Linked DNA regions of Homo sapiens. The protein of the gene in region 1 interacts with the protein of each later gene in a pairwise test. Each region holds a gene or a part of one and is shown on either strand. Other genes may lie near its edges. The genes, in order: VANGL1 and CD82.

Region 1 (7,272 bases):
CACACCTCTTCAGAAATCTGTACCCAGCTGCTGGAGGTGTTTCAGGGGTAATTAATGACTGGAGCCAAGAGAAGTTATTCTGGCAAGGTGAGTTGAAATCATTGGCGAAACAAGTAAAACAAAGTTGACATTTTCTTTCCTTGTAAATAATGACCCAGAATCATTCATTTATAAGCTGTTGTAATAAAAGAATCATTGGGTTTGTCACAAATGCCATAAGCCCAGCAGATCCTCACATCAGTGACCTGCATGATGTTTGGTGGTTTATAGGCCACAAGTTCAAAATGTTTTATAGATTTGCCCTGCATCTCTGCCCGCTCCTTTCCAGCCCATGCCCCTCCAAATAAACCCACTAAAACACACACGGTTTCCTCTGGTCTCTCTGACATTTGCTTCCAACCTGGGGATGGTAAATAGAGGCCTGTAAGAAACAGAATAGAAATCACTTGTTACTCAGCTATAGCTAATAGTAGCAGTTAAAGGTGGTAGCAGAGACCAGAAAAATGTGTATAAGTTCAGTGAAAATGATACAGAAGTTATATGCCATACAACCCCTTCAGTTCTTCCTAACTGAAGGAATTTTACTCTAGTGAATACTAGTAGTAGTTGACAGCTGTGAGTGCCTACCACGTGCTAGGCACTGTTCTAATAATTTTTATGAATTATCTCATTTAATACCTACCACAGATCTATAATATAAGTAAAATAAAATCTGTTGTTACAGTTAGGGAAACTGAGGCAGAGAGCAGTTAAGTAACTTGTTCTGAGGTCACACAGCTAAGTACTAGAGCCAGGATTTGAATGCTCTTCACCCACAATTTGGGCTCATTGCTACTCTCTAGAAGAATAGTTGACTCTAAACAAAATTATTTCAATTGTCACTTTCCCCTTGAGTGCCATTTAATTAAGAATGGGTACCCCTAAGAAGAATGTTAGCTTCAAGACATAATATAAATAATAATTAATAGCATAATCTCTGCAGAATTCTATGTAAAAATCAAATATTCAGAATAATATACACAGCATATATAAGCATGGTTGTACCAGACACCACTTTTCCTTGGAAATAGATCTACTTACTGCATAGGAAGCAAAATCTCTCTTTAAATTCAGTGCGTGTCTCTGTAACCCTTACAAAGTAACTTTCCAAACCAGAGCTCCCTTAATTACTTAATAGCTCTAGGCAGAGCTGTTGATGTTTTTATAATTTCCTTTTTGCGAAGGTTAGCTTATGTTTACCACTGTCATTATCATAACATATTATTTCCTTCATACGATTTGCTAAACACTGTGTTTTCATATTAAGTAGTAGGATTTTTATATGAGTGAACATGACTTTAGGAGAGAATTCTGTTTGAGGCTGATTATCTTCATTTTGCTTTTGATAAAGGGTGGTGAAGGAGGTTCTTTCTGACATTTTTGCCTAGGAAGTCCAGAATTTAGGACACTGCCACTTAGAAGCACTCTGTGCACCTATCTCCCATTGTTGACCTTGCCTGCATGCAATGTGGTTCAATGAGCCTGGCCGTGTCCTAATATTTGCCTCCAGCCCCTACCCAAGCAGTGCCAAGCAATACACTCTTAAGGGGTGGGTGACCGGTGAGGCAAGATGCTCTTGGGCAGTGGCTGAAAGAGGCTGCTGCTGATTTTTACTCAGTGTGTCTGGCATACGAACTCTGCCCCTGAGTGGGACTGCCATGCGAGCCAGTAGTATAGCTTTTTTTTTTTTTTTTTTGATAGTTCTGGTATCACGCCTCTATCTAATATCTGCATCTTTTTTTTTGCCACCTCTAAAACTAAGGATTTAAAATAGATAATTTCTAAAGTTTCTTCCACAATGAATCTATGGCCTCATGTCCTAAGATCTGCCACAAAACCCTTCATTCAGCAGACATTTATAGGGTACCCATAATGTCCTAGGAGCTGGAAAGACAGGCAGTCATGAAAGTGCCTCTGCCCTCATGGAGCTTACAGCCTGTGAAGAAACTAGACAATAAGTGATCACACAAACAAATGTATCACTGGAAGTTGGATAGAAAGGAAGAGTACAGGGTACTAGAGAAGAGCCTGACTGAGATTGAAGGATCAGGAAAGGCCTCTTGAAAGGAGCAGTATTTAAATTAAGGAGTGATGAGTAGGAATTTGGCAAAACAGGGCATGTAAAGGGTGAGTACCAACAGATATACTGGGCTCTGCCAAAGCCCTAAGACTCTACCTTAAAGGAGCTGGGGCTAGAGAAGGAGGAGGGAGCTAGAGCGTCGGGCAGGACATTGCATACCAAATGAAAGATTTTTGTATTTTATTTAAAGTGCAGTGGGACACCACGGAAAGGTTTTAAACAGGGAAGTGACGTCTGCATTGTAATTTAAAAGGTCACTCTGGCTGCTGCCCAGCCTGGGCCAAACACAATATGAGTCATGTCAGGGGTCAGTATGATAGACAGTTCCAGGTTCTAGGAGCCATATTCCCACCTTTATATGACTGTCCTATTCATGCTGCTGTGACAGCCTATCAGTGTATTACCCTGGGAACCTGATTCCTTTTCATTGCTTTATTGTCTTTTCTGATAAGGGATTCCTTCTGACCTTATCATGAGTTTGGTTAATTTCTTGTGTATGCAAGGGAACTATCTCATAGATATATCATTGCAGTGGTAAGCTTCAGGATATCCTTTTCCATTAAGTCTGTTGAAGTTCTTACCTTGGCTCAGACTCTTTTAAAATAAGTTCACTTCGGATTTTATTAGTTTGCCTCTTATTGCATCCTCTTAGTCCTCACTCAGATCTTGGATAGGATAAGAGTTGGTAACTATTAGAAACGGTATGACTTAGAAGGGGCCTGAGCTGTGTATAGGCTGGTGAGGACACCTGGAGGCTTTGTAGTGGTCTAGCCCTGTGTAGGTGGAGCCTGGAGGAAGTGGGTGGCTGTGAATCAGTAGAGTGAAGGGAGGATCAGAGAGGGTGTTGAAGGTGGCACAGGGTTAGATCCTTAGGATGAGGGTATTGCTTTAGCTGAGGAATTGGGAAGAACAGGACAGGATACTGGAGAGCACCTATGAGAGGGATGATGGTATTCCCAAGGGGAGCAAGAGGAATCTCAGTAGGAAATGTGCACTTGGGATTTAGTCTTTCAGTAAGTATTTGTTGGGTACCTGCTATGTTCAAAATATCCTGGGTGGAGGTAAGACGTAGTTGCTGTGTTCAAGGAGCTTCTGCCATAGGAAATCTGTGGATGGAGAAGACTGAGAAGAGTTTTGAATGTCAAGGGATAACGTGATGAGGGGAGAGGAGAGGGAGTGTTAGAGGAGAAGTAGTAACATAAGCGGCATCAAATTGGAGGCTAGCCAGCTGCAGAGAAACTCTGCTAGGGCAGGCAGCATGCCTTTGTCATTGCTGTGCCCTAGCATTGCCTAGCATGGTCTTGTAGGTGCCACTTAATATGGAGGTGGATGGACTAATAAATGAAATAAAAAGCACTGGGGGAGGAGGACAAGGATGTTACTTGGCTCATAGCAATCCTTGGCCAACTTTGAGTTGTTTCAGTGGAGTGTTGTGGATGGAGATTTGGACTGAAAGTGGAGAAGGAGGGAGTGACAGCATGTATAGACCACTCCTTTGGTAAGTACAGGAAGGAACCATGGGAGGGAAACCAGACTAGGGTGGTTGGTAGAGTTAGATAAAGCCTTTCCCTGGAGGGCAGTTGGGACCCATGGTTTCCTTTGAGGGACAAGCCTGGAGTTGTCTTAATGAATGGCCACAAGTTTTCAATGAGGACAAGGAATGAAGTCCTCTGGCAGAGGGGGAAGGGAATAAAACTTGGGTTACCATGTGCCAGAGACTTTACCTTTGCAGTTTCATTTAATCCTCACAAGAACCCTGGGAAGAGAGAGTATTAAATGACCTCATTTTTATGGGGCAGGGTTGGATAAGCTCAGAGAGGCAAACATTTGCCCCCTGATGTCACAGCTAGGAAGCACCAAGCTGGATCTGCCCACATCTGCGGGGCCTGGGCCACCTGCCTCTGAGACACTCCAGCAGCATTTAGCAAAAAGTAGCTGGAAGTTGGGATGGAATGGGGAATCCAGAGTTATGGGTTGCAAGGCAGAGTGTAGGAGTTGTGAAGGGTTAATTATGAATCTAGAAGAGAGTGGGAAATCGGTGTTCTGGGCCAGGGAACTGGACATTTGAATCTGCAGATCAGCAGAGGCTGGGTGAGGGGCTTTCAGGGAGGATCTCAGTTCACTCAGGGCTGGAGATCTTCGAAGCACATCCTAATGTTGACGTCTGCCTGTTATGAAGCAGGTGAGAAAACAGCAAAGCCCAGGGCAGAAAGGAAGTGAGACTGAGGTGTTGAAAGCTGATTGAAATTGCTAGTGAAAATGGTGGAGACAGTAGGCAGAAAAAAAGATGACTCAGCCCTTGAAGTCTTCTAGGAAAGTAGGGTAAGTCCAGGAGCAAAACTTAGCATTTAAAAAAGGCCTGCTGTGTTTTCACATTTAATCTTTACAGCTACCTCCCCCCACAAACCCCCACCATAATAGGCTGCCTTGCTTCCTTTTTATGGATTGGGAAGTCTCTGAGGCTCCAAGGAGAAACTGCTTTGCCCAGGTGTACAGCTAGTTAGTAGGCAGCGGACTGAGATGTGTGCTCCGTTCTGTCTGACTGCAGGTGAGCCTTGTGGCAGGAAGGCCGGCACAGAGACTCTGCTCTGCTTCTTTCCAAGCATTTCTCTCATTAAAAAGACAGAGGAACAAGCATTTCGGAACCCGCAAAGAGAGTGCTGATAGACAGTGACTTTCGTTTACCTAGCACATCTGGAGCTCGCGCTGGGTGCCTTCATAGTTGTTAGCTCATTTGGTCTTCACGGCAACCCTGATATTTGCATTTTACAGTTACATGTTCAAAGAGGTTTACTAATTTTGACTGGGGCCTGATAGCTAATAAGTGAGTAAAACCCGAGATTGGAACCCACCTTTGGAAACTGTGTCTGCTTATATTTTCAGATCTACCTGTGAGGTCGGTGGCTGGTTGGTTTACCCTGTTTAACAGATGAGGAAACTGAGGCATAAGAAAGCAAGTGGCTTATCCCAGGTTGTACTAAACAGTGGCTGGGCTCAGACTAGAACTCAGGTTTCCCCAGGGCTAGCCTTGGGCTCCTGATGGCAGAGGAGAAGTGAAATGGTAAGTCAGGGCATCAGGGACAAAGGAGGCTGGCCCTGGGTGGCAGACCTTGGAAGTGATCGTACCTGACTCCCAGGAAGAATGAATGGTAAGGGTAAATACACCCTAACTGGGATTAGAGGCTGTGGGGGCTGTATTGGTGGTGTATGGCAATTTGTGCTGACCTGATTCCCTCCAGACTTATGTGTTGTTGCTGGGGTCAGGGAAACTTGGCCTCCTCCCAGGAGGGTTAGGGTATGGCATTTACAGCTCCTTTGTTTTTTCTTCACACTTATCTCACTGGCTGTGTTTGCAGTTTCAGCTTCCAGCGGCTGGAAGAAGGAACCCTGTTGAGCTGAGACTAGCTCTGGGGTGAGGGGTGCAGAAAGAGACAGAACTTGTGGATCTCGGTTTTCTAGAAGTAAAAATTTTAGCATGTGGGAGCTCAGGAATGTACTTGGAAATGTTTCCAATTTATTTTTATTGCAAAGCAATATCTAATGAAAATGTGGGAGAAGACCCAGGAGCCTGCAAATAATAAATTGCCTGCTTTCATTTTCTGTGTCTCCTTTTAAAAATCTTTGTCCTTACATAAGCAATTTTATACAATTGTAACTGTAATGTTGGTTCACTGTGTATCAACAATACTGTATCCTGCTTTTAAAATTCATCATTATAAGAGTTTCTATTCTTTATAATGATCATTTTAAACATATGTGATACTTTTCTGGTGGATGAACCATGTTTTCCTTACCTATTCCTGTATTCTGGGGGCATTCAGATTGTTTCTAGCATTTTATTATTTATAGACAATGAGACCACAATAATTTTTCTTTAAAAAAGAAATCAGTTCCCTCAGATAAATTCCCAGAAATTCGGATCCTAGATCAAAAAGATTGAAGATCTTTTTTTTTTTTAATTGACTTTTGGAAATTATGACCAAATCCCTTAAAAGCAACTTCGCTGGGTATTGTTTTTTTAACCAGCAAACTGGCAGTGGGGGGCTGGGCATTGTGTGGAGGGTCGCAGATGTGGAAAGCCACCTCCTAAAGCCAGTGAGCAGGGGTCAGGTCATCCTGAGGACGTGGACAAGTGCCTCCCATTTTCCTGCTGCTGTGGTAGGGGTTCAGCTTGCTCAGCGCCTATCCTGTCTCCCTCCCAGACACCTGGGAAAACTGGTTGCTGCATGGGTGGAGCATTTACAGTTCAGTTGCTTCACCCTCACTCGCTTGTTCCATGATAGAGACCCCAGAGAGGAGGTGTGGCTTTGTCATTTATCTTTCAGCCCCATTAAGGTTGGCTCTGAAGATTAATGTCTTTTTTTTTCCCCCTCTTTCCCAGAATTTGTTCCTGTTGAAGAGTGGCTCCTCTTCTAATTTCCAGACTCCTTGAGGTTTTAGGAGTCTGGTAGGTGAAATTTTCTACCTCTAAGGAGAAACAGTACCTGCTCCTTCCTCAAGCGCAAGCCCTCCATTGCTATGGATACCGAATCCACTTATTCTGGATATTCTTACTATTCAAGTCATTCGAAAAAATCTCACAGACAAGGGTATGTAAGTTGTTCATTATTACACTTTTCCTTTTGGGGAAACCTACAGGTTGGTGGGGTTCTCTACACTCACTTTTCAGTGACTCAGCGCTGGACATTTGGTCGGTTGGTGCATGAGAAGCTGAGCTTTAAGAGCATTTAACATTCTTGGGAGTAACTACGTCACCAGTTTACATTTTATAGCCACCATTAGAGTTGATGACTTTAGTTTCTCACAATTGGTTTTAAATTAAAGTTTCTTCCTGCAGTGGAAATGTTTTTCATTTCTAGGTATTTCTTTTTTTTTTTTTGAGACGGAGTCTCGTTCTGTCACCCAGGCTGGAATGCAGTGGTGCCATCTCGGCTCACTGCAAGCTCCGCCTTGTGGGTTCACGCCACTCTCCTGCCTCAGCCTCCCGAGTAGCTGAGACTACAGGCGCCCACCACCACGCCTGGCTAATTTTTGTATTTTTAGTAGAGACGGGGTTTCACCTTGTTGGCCAGGATGGTCTCGATCTGACCTTGTGATCCGCCCGCCTCGGTTTCTAGGTATTTCTTATAGGTATCGGCTCTCCTGAAAGCTTT
Region 2 (7,272 bases), on another chromosome or scaffold:
AAAAATGAGGCTCAGAGTTGGAGCAACTTCCCAAGATCACATAGATAGAAAGCAGCAGAGACATGACCAGACCTTGATCTGTGCAGCTCCAGGGACCCGGGATCTTAGCCTCGGCAAGCTGCCCAGGGCCTCCCCATGACCCTGCTGTCCTCTGCATGGCTCTACTCACGTCCCACCCAAATGCTGAGCTTTGACTTCTCTTTTAGTGTGAATTTTCACAGAGTCAGAGTTAGGAGAGACCTTTGCGTCCAGCAAATCATCCAAATGTAAGAGTCATGCTTTTTTAGGCTCTGCTTAAATGCTCCCTGCGATGGGGAAGTCAGTACCTCACACAATAGCATGTTGCGGAGTTGAGAGGCTCTGATACAATTTAAGTTCTGCTCAAATGACTTCTACCCACTTGTATTAGTTCACATCCTCCTCCTCTCTCAGCTACCCAAGTCCCAGCTAGGACCACAGGAACAAATCAAATCCCTCTCTCGAAGGACACATGTCATCCAGATACTTGAGACTAGACTACATCTCCAGGGTAACTTTTCGGGCTCCTGTGCCCGCCCCTTGGGGTGCTGTGCAGACCTCTTGCCATGCTCTTTAAGGTGTGAAATAGCCCCTTATAATAAGGTATAAATGCATGAATTGGACCCACATCTTCCTGTCCTCTCCAGGTTTCCCACATGAGATGTTGGCAAATGCTTTGCTAGAATACAGATACACCAGCTCAGAGGCTGCATCCCAGTACCCTGATAGGAAATGAGGGCGCTTCCTGCATCTTTTCTGCAAGTCCAGCTGCAATCCACGTAATTAGCTACCCCAGAATGCAGAGCCAGTGACCAGCGTGTGCTTCAGAGATTCTAGCCCAAGTGTCTTTCCATAATCCCTTTCCAGAGGGGTAGCCTGGACTCCTCCATTCCCTTCTCAACAGGGGAGAGAAAGGTCACCTCTCCCTGTCCCAGGCTCCAGCTGCTCTTCCTCCCTCTGCCCCATCGCAAGAGAACCCCAAGCCAGAGAATCAGGAAGTTCTAATTCAGCAAGCAGACAGTTCACAGAGAACCACACTGTCCCCTAGGAACCCGTCTCGCCACCTGTGTCTCACACATGAGGGTATGTGCGCACCAACAATTTGGGGCTTTCAGGGTGAGAGCAAGGAGGACAAGAAGGAAGTCACAGTTCCCCTGACCAACATCTCTGGGGAGTTGTCTGGCCAGCCACTGCCACTGTCACAGCCCCCACCTCTGGCTCCCAGCCAGGCCAAGTGAGCCCCTTCCCCTCCAATGTCTTCTGCTTGAGCGTGACAGCACTCAGAGCCTCAGGGGCCTCCCTGGCACAGGTATGGCCTGCCAAGTGCACCCAGCTCAGCACCCACACACCACAGGAAAGGGCAAACTGCATTCACTTCCTTCTCACTCCTCCCACCTCCACTCTCTAGAGAGAACAAGTCAGAATCCCTGACTGCCTGCACTGGGCATGGCCCAAGAGCTCGCCTGTGGATCAGAGAGTCTGGGTAACTTATCCGAAGCCACACAGCAATCAGCGGCAGAGCCCACACTAAAACACAGGGCCCCTGAATCCCAGGGCTGGGCTCTGCTCACCAGAGGCTGGATAAACAAGCAGATGAGGATCTTAGCACCGTGCCCAGATCCCCATTCCCGCAGCCCTTGCTCTGCTGACAACGAGGGCAGCAGGAACAGCTGCCACCTATTGAGCCCTTACCAGGCCTTCATGAAGTGAATAATGGCGGCAATAATAATAAACACTGGCAATGATGCCAGCAACATCAGCCTCCGGCTGAGTGCCGCACGACGCCCTTCCCGTTTGTTAGTGCTCTTCATCTCTGAAGTGCTGCAAGGCAGCCCCTGGGGGCTCCGGCTCGAGACAGGATCAGATTTTAGAAAGGGCCTGGAGGGACAGATCACACCCACTAGTGGGGGCTGGGGCAGCAGCCTGCAGTGAGTCTCATTTCTATTTCCCTAGGGACACCCGAATGGGGCAGGCAAAGGCCATACATAGCCTTGCTTCTGTTCAGGTTCAATTTTGCCACCAAATTAGTTGCAAATGCTACTTTTGGTTTTTAAAGTGTTTCTTTGGATTTCAGAATTGCAGAGAAGGGACAGTGGGCCTATATTGTTACTAGTTTGACAAATGTGGAAACTGAGGCACAGGGAGGCTGAGTAGCATGCCCAGAATGTCAGAGCAGTGGTTCCACAGTCAAGACCCTTGGACACCATTCTGCATTTTCACAGAAGTGTCACAGTCTGTGTTCACTTCAACCTGAGTGGTAGAGCAGGGAGAGGCAGATTTATTCTCAATTTATAGAAGCAGAACCCAAGGCTCCAGAGGTGACAGGCCATGCCAAGGTCCCCAACCTCCCCATCGCTGCCCTGAGAAGAGTGGCTGCGGGTGACAGAGGCAGGAAGGACAGAGGGCAGCCCTGGAGACCACAGCAGGGTCACTCCCACCCACCTGCACGGGAGCCCTATCTCCTTTCAAAAGGCCTTTCTTTTCCTTAGGTTCAAACAAGTCCCACCCCCACGCTGAGCCTTGTCTGCCAGAATAAACACATCAAGAGTATGTTTAGTCTTCCACTGAGATTTATGATGCGTTGCGAAAGAAAAAAATATATTGTTCATTCCAATTCGGGCGATACAGTGGCACCAGAACTTCTTCAGCAAAGCCAGAAAATTTCCCCCTGCCTTCCAGAAAAGATGGTGGTGGACTAAGGTGAGGCAGGCTGGGACTAGGGGGTGTGGACTCTGAAGGGGAAGACAGGGGCAGGGGGTGCAATGCACAGAGCTTGGCTGGGGTCGAGAAACCCAAATCTCCAAACAAGTCCTGTTCTGGGGCTGATAGGACACCTCTGAGGCTAAGCTCCTCATTATCAGCCAAGCAGAGTTACCCAGCCGGCGGGAGGGCAGCGTGGTGGATAGGGAGGCATGGGCCTTGGACTCCAAGGCATCAGGATGGAAATCCCCACTCTGATGCATCCAAGCTGTGTGTGTCAGTGGCTGAAAGTCACTTTGCTTTCCTGGGCCTCAGTTTCTTCAAATGGAAAATGTTTGTAAATTTGAACATGTATTGCAGCTCACTTTTCTAGCTCAGCTCCTGGCATGTGGTTGGTGCCAACCTGGTGGGCCATATTTATTACTGTGAGATGGTGAATCACATAGGGTGGACTGCCCAAGATCCCTGCAGAGGCGACCAGCTTCTGAGTCATAGAAACCGGCTCACTGGGGCCTGGTTCTAATCCACCCTGATTATATCACTAACTAGGTCCTAAAGAAGCTCAGTGCCATAGGACAGAAATGAAGACCTGACCCCATGACCATTTTTCTGGGAAAGGAATTTCCCTCCCTTAACTGCTGGCTTCCTGTCTCACAGCCAAACAAGCTGCTTTTCATCTACAAAATCCACTATTTTCCACTTTTGCCTTGACTGCCAGGAAGCTCAGTGCCCAAGTTAGCCCTTAGCTACCAAGAGTATCTTGTCTTGTGAAGTTCCATTAAGTTCTAAGTTCTATTAAATGTTATTTGTTGATGTTGATGTTGGTATAGTGTTTTCTCAGTTTCCTTCCAAGAGGGATCTCAGGCAACTTGACCTTCAAGTGGTGAAGGGCAGGAGCCTATCTGGCTGCCGGCTCTGCCACCCTCCCTGGTGGACAAGAACTGGTGGCACTGGAAGCAGGGACCCTAAGGGTCTGCTAGGCCACAGGCCATGTGCAGCAGGGTCTGGGGACGGGTGAACTCAGGACTCGGAGTCAGGGAGCCTAGGCTGTCCTTACTCCTTCATCTGCAGGACGGGGATTCTCCCACGACCTTGAGAGGGCCTAGTGAGGATCTGCGAGAGGAGGAGTGTAACGTGGTCAACACTGTACTTGGTATATGCTGTGCATGGACTCAACTGGAGGGATGGTGGGTGTTAGAGTCACTGTTATCTATGTTGTTATTGCTCTTCATCTCAGAGCATCTGCTTCTCCATCTGTCAACATAAAACCCTGCAGAGCCATTGTGAGGACAAGACGCTGTATGGAAAGTTTCTAGAAGATCCCACGTGCACACAGTAGGTGCTTCTTACGTGATAACTGTGACTCACAATTAACTGGCTCACCCAACAGCCATTCTTGGCTCCTTTCTCTCTTGTGCCTCTGTCTTTAGAGTCTGAAAGTTGGATACTCACATTCTCAGCCTCTTTTGCAACCAGGGGTGGCTTTGTAACCCAGTCTGGGGAAGTCTGTTGGAGGACTTTTTTTTTTTTTTTTTTTTGAGACAGGGTCTCACTCTGTTGCCCCAAGCTCTGTTTCATGGCTCCCTGTAGCCTCAACCTCCTGGCCTCAAGGATCCTCCTGCCTCAGCCTCCTGAGTAGCTGGGACCACAGGTGAACACCACCATGGCTAGCATTTTTAAAAATTTGTTTGTAGAAATGGGGTCTCACCATGTTGCCCAGGCTAGTCTCAGAGCAATCCTCCCACCTCTGCCTCCCTAAGTATTGGGATTACAGTCATGAGCCACTGCGCCTTTTCTGATAAAAGGGATGGCCATGTCTGGCACTGCCCACTTCCCCATCTTCAGGCCACAGCGGCACAGACATCGTGCCTGGTGCTGTGGCAGCCATCTTGGAACCACGAGGTAAGTGTCATAATGCAGGAAAGCCATCCCAGCGAGGATGCTCAACAGCCAGAACCAGGGCCTCTGAGCTTCCAAACCAGACTTCCGGTCAAGTCAACCACAGATGTCCTTCAACTTTAAGCCGCTGTAAGTCTGATTTTCTGTTTCTGAAAGCTGAACATCTCCCCTCGGACACAAGACTGATGTTTTTATTAACGGTCTCCTTCTAAACCTCATTTGTGGGTGAGTGGCATGGATTTAATAGTTGCTAAAGTATCTTAATAATAACAAGAATAACATTTATTGAGTACTTATGGTGCCATGCGCTATGTGTTTCACTCAGATAATCTCGAATAATCTTTGCAACCACTCTGAGAGTTCAGTTTTCTTATTGTTTCCATTTTACAGATGGTGGAACAGGCACATAGAGGCAAGCAGCTTGCCCAAGGCCACACAGCTAGAAAGCAGGGGGGTCAGGCTAAGATCCAGGCCCAGCGGGGACTGCCCACACCTGCCGCCTTCTCTTCTAACGCTCCCCCATTTGATCACAAGGAATAGTGTCCAGGAGGCCGTCCCTGACACCTACTGGATCTGTCTGTGACAACTGGGGGGGTTCCTTGTCCATCCCCCACACTCAGTCAATCACCCCCATGGTTGGTCCAGCCCAGTGAAGAGGGAGGGAGAGAGGGGCTTACCTTGCCCATGTTGAAGTAGAAGAGGGCCCCGGCCGTCACCTGGGCAATGAGGATCAGGAGCAGGAAAGCAAAGTACTGGGGACACAGAGCAGGCACAAAGTCAGCTGAGGGTCCCCGACCAGGTGCACCCAGCCTGCGTGCCCCGAGAGATGCTCTCCACCCGATGTTACGGCCAGCGCCGCGGTCAGGCTGCACTCGGCTGGATGAGAGGAAATGGGCAGGCAGCTGCGGAGGGATCCGTACTCACCAGCCCCAGCAGGCAGCGGACCTCGTTGACGGCGCCGATGCAGCCCAGGAAGCCCATGAGCATAGTGACTGCCCCCACGCCGATGAAGACATAGGCCCCCATCCTAAGCGAGCTGGAGGAGGTTTCTAGGGGGAAGAAGAAGTACAAAATCAGTGGGCACAGCAGGTATAAACACCTGGCCTAACCGTCCAGGTCTTCTTCCGGATCCCCTCTTTGGAGCCAGGGTGTTGGGGTCAGCTGCATTCCCCTGCTGGCTTCTCACTGCCCAACAGGGAACCAGGTCACCCCCATCCCCACTTGTGTCCCTCCCCCAGTAAAATTGCAATCCACACCCTCATCCAGCCTAAGCCCCTTCCCGGCTTTATTTTTTACTTCGTAAGGCTTCTCAGGATTGAATAGACTACATTTCACTGATTCTTCTTGCTCATTGTCTGCTCTCCCCCTCCACCAAGGACCTGAGGTGCATGAGGGCAGAAGCTTCACTTTATTCCTGGGGAACCCCCAGCTCGAACAGCGCCTCTCGCAGTGAGGTGCTGTGCACAGTGAATATCTGCGGAATTGACAGACAAGAGGCTGGCTGGTTCTCCAGGGGCCACTGACATTAAGATTCCAAGCTGATTTTTAACCCGCCTTCCTTCTTGTCCATATAATAACAAACACCAGCCTTTCTTGCCCACTCACTGTGCCTCATGGGCTTTCCACACGCCGTCTCCAACTCTGACATCACCCTGCCTGGCAGGCACTAGCATGGCCATTTCACAGAAGAAAAAAATGAGGCTCAGAAAGGCGAACAGGCAAGGGCCTGAGCTGGAATTTGAAAATATGCAAATCTCCAGTGCCACACTCTTTCCACTGATGCACGGGGCACATGTATTGCTACAGGTGTGCTGCATGTTCATTCGGCCAAGAAATGTTTACTGGGTGCCCACTTCATGCCAGGCACTGTGCCAGTTGCTGGGGATGCAGAAGAGTGACTAACAAGGTCTGACATTTGGGGGTGGGGAGTGGAGACAAAAAGTACACAATACAGGTTTTCTGGTTGTGTTGGGCGCCATGAAGATACCAAAGCTGGCTAACTGCAGAGAACTGCTGGGCTGGGAGAGGGTCAGAATGGGTCGACGAAGGCCAGCCTGAGCCAGTGACATTTGAGCCAAGACATGAATGAAGAAGTCAGCCAAGCAAAGATCTGTAAGAAAAGCATTCCAGGCAGGGAACACAGCAGGTGCAAAGGCCTGAGGAAGGAGGAGCTTGGTTATTTGAAGATTGGAAAGAAGGTGAGAGAACGGACCAGTGAGAGCAAGAAAGAAGCCCGGGAGGAAATGATGCTTAGGAGGTACAGGAATGGGCCTGATGGCTAAGACCCTCTTTAGAGCTACCTGTGGACAGGCCCATTCCGGGAGGTAGAGGTCAGGAGTCCTGCAGGGGCACTTGGCCAACATTTCCTAAGACACCCAACCCATCACACAGGGTAAAGCTCATGTCATCTCTAACTCACCAGCATGGGTACACTGTACCCCCAGGGCATGGGACGCACCTGGAGGGCGAGGGTGCTGGCGTCTCCAGAAGGCTGGAGAGTAGTGTGGATCAGAGGAGCCTCTTAGGGATGCAGATGCTTGAGTCCGTTACAACCCGACCAAGACGCTCCCAGCAGGAGGCCAAGGACCTGCGTTTTTAATCTGCTCCCCTAAGCACTGAGGCACAGCCAGGACCAACCCCTTTACCATCAGCAGG

Evidence for each region.
Region 2: the proteins of VANGL1 (region 1) and CD82 interact in binary tests that used the Homo sapiens proteins (3 or more experiments, as listed by UniProt).

What each region holds. Positions count from the first base shown.
Region 1 is NC_000001.11:115,644,777-115,652,048, forward strand, and holds part of VANGL1 (vang-like protein 1), read left to right. Parts: intron 1-6,500; 5' UTR 6,501-6,637; coding exon 6,638-6,708; intron 6,709-7,272.
Region 2 is NC_000011.10:44,603,452-44,610,723, reverse strand, and holds part of CD82 (CD82 antigen), read right to left. Parts: intron 6,307-7,272; exon of another isoform or gene 6,266-6,306; coding exon of another isoform or gene 6,223-6,265; intron 6,217-6,222; exon of another isoform or gene 5,994-6,216; intron 5,707-5,993; exon of another isoform or gene 5,667-5,706; coding exon 5,542-5,666; exon of another isoform or gene 5,387-5,541; intron 5,370-5,386; coding exon 5,295-5,369; intron 1-5,294. UniProt on the Homo sapiens protein: Structural component of specialized membrane microdomains known as tetraspanin-enriched microdomains (TERMs), which act as platforms for receptor clustering and signaling.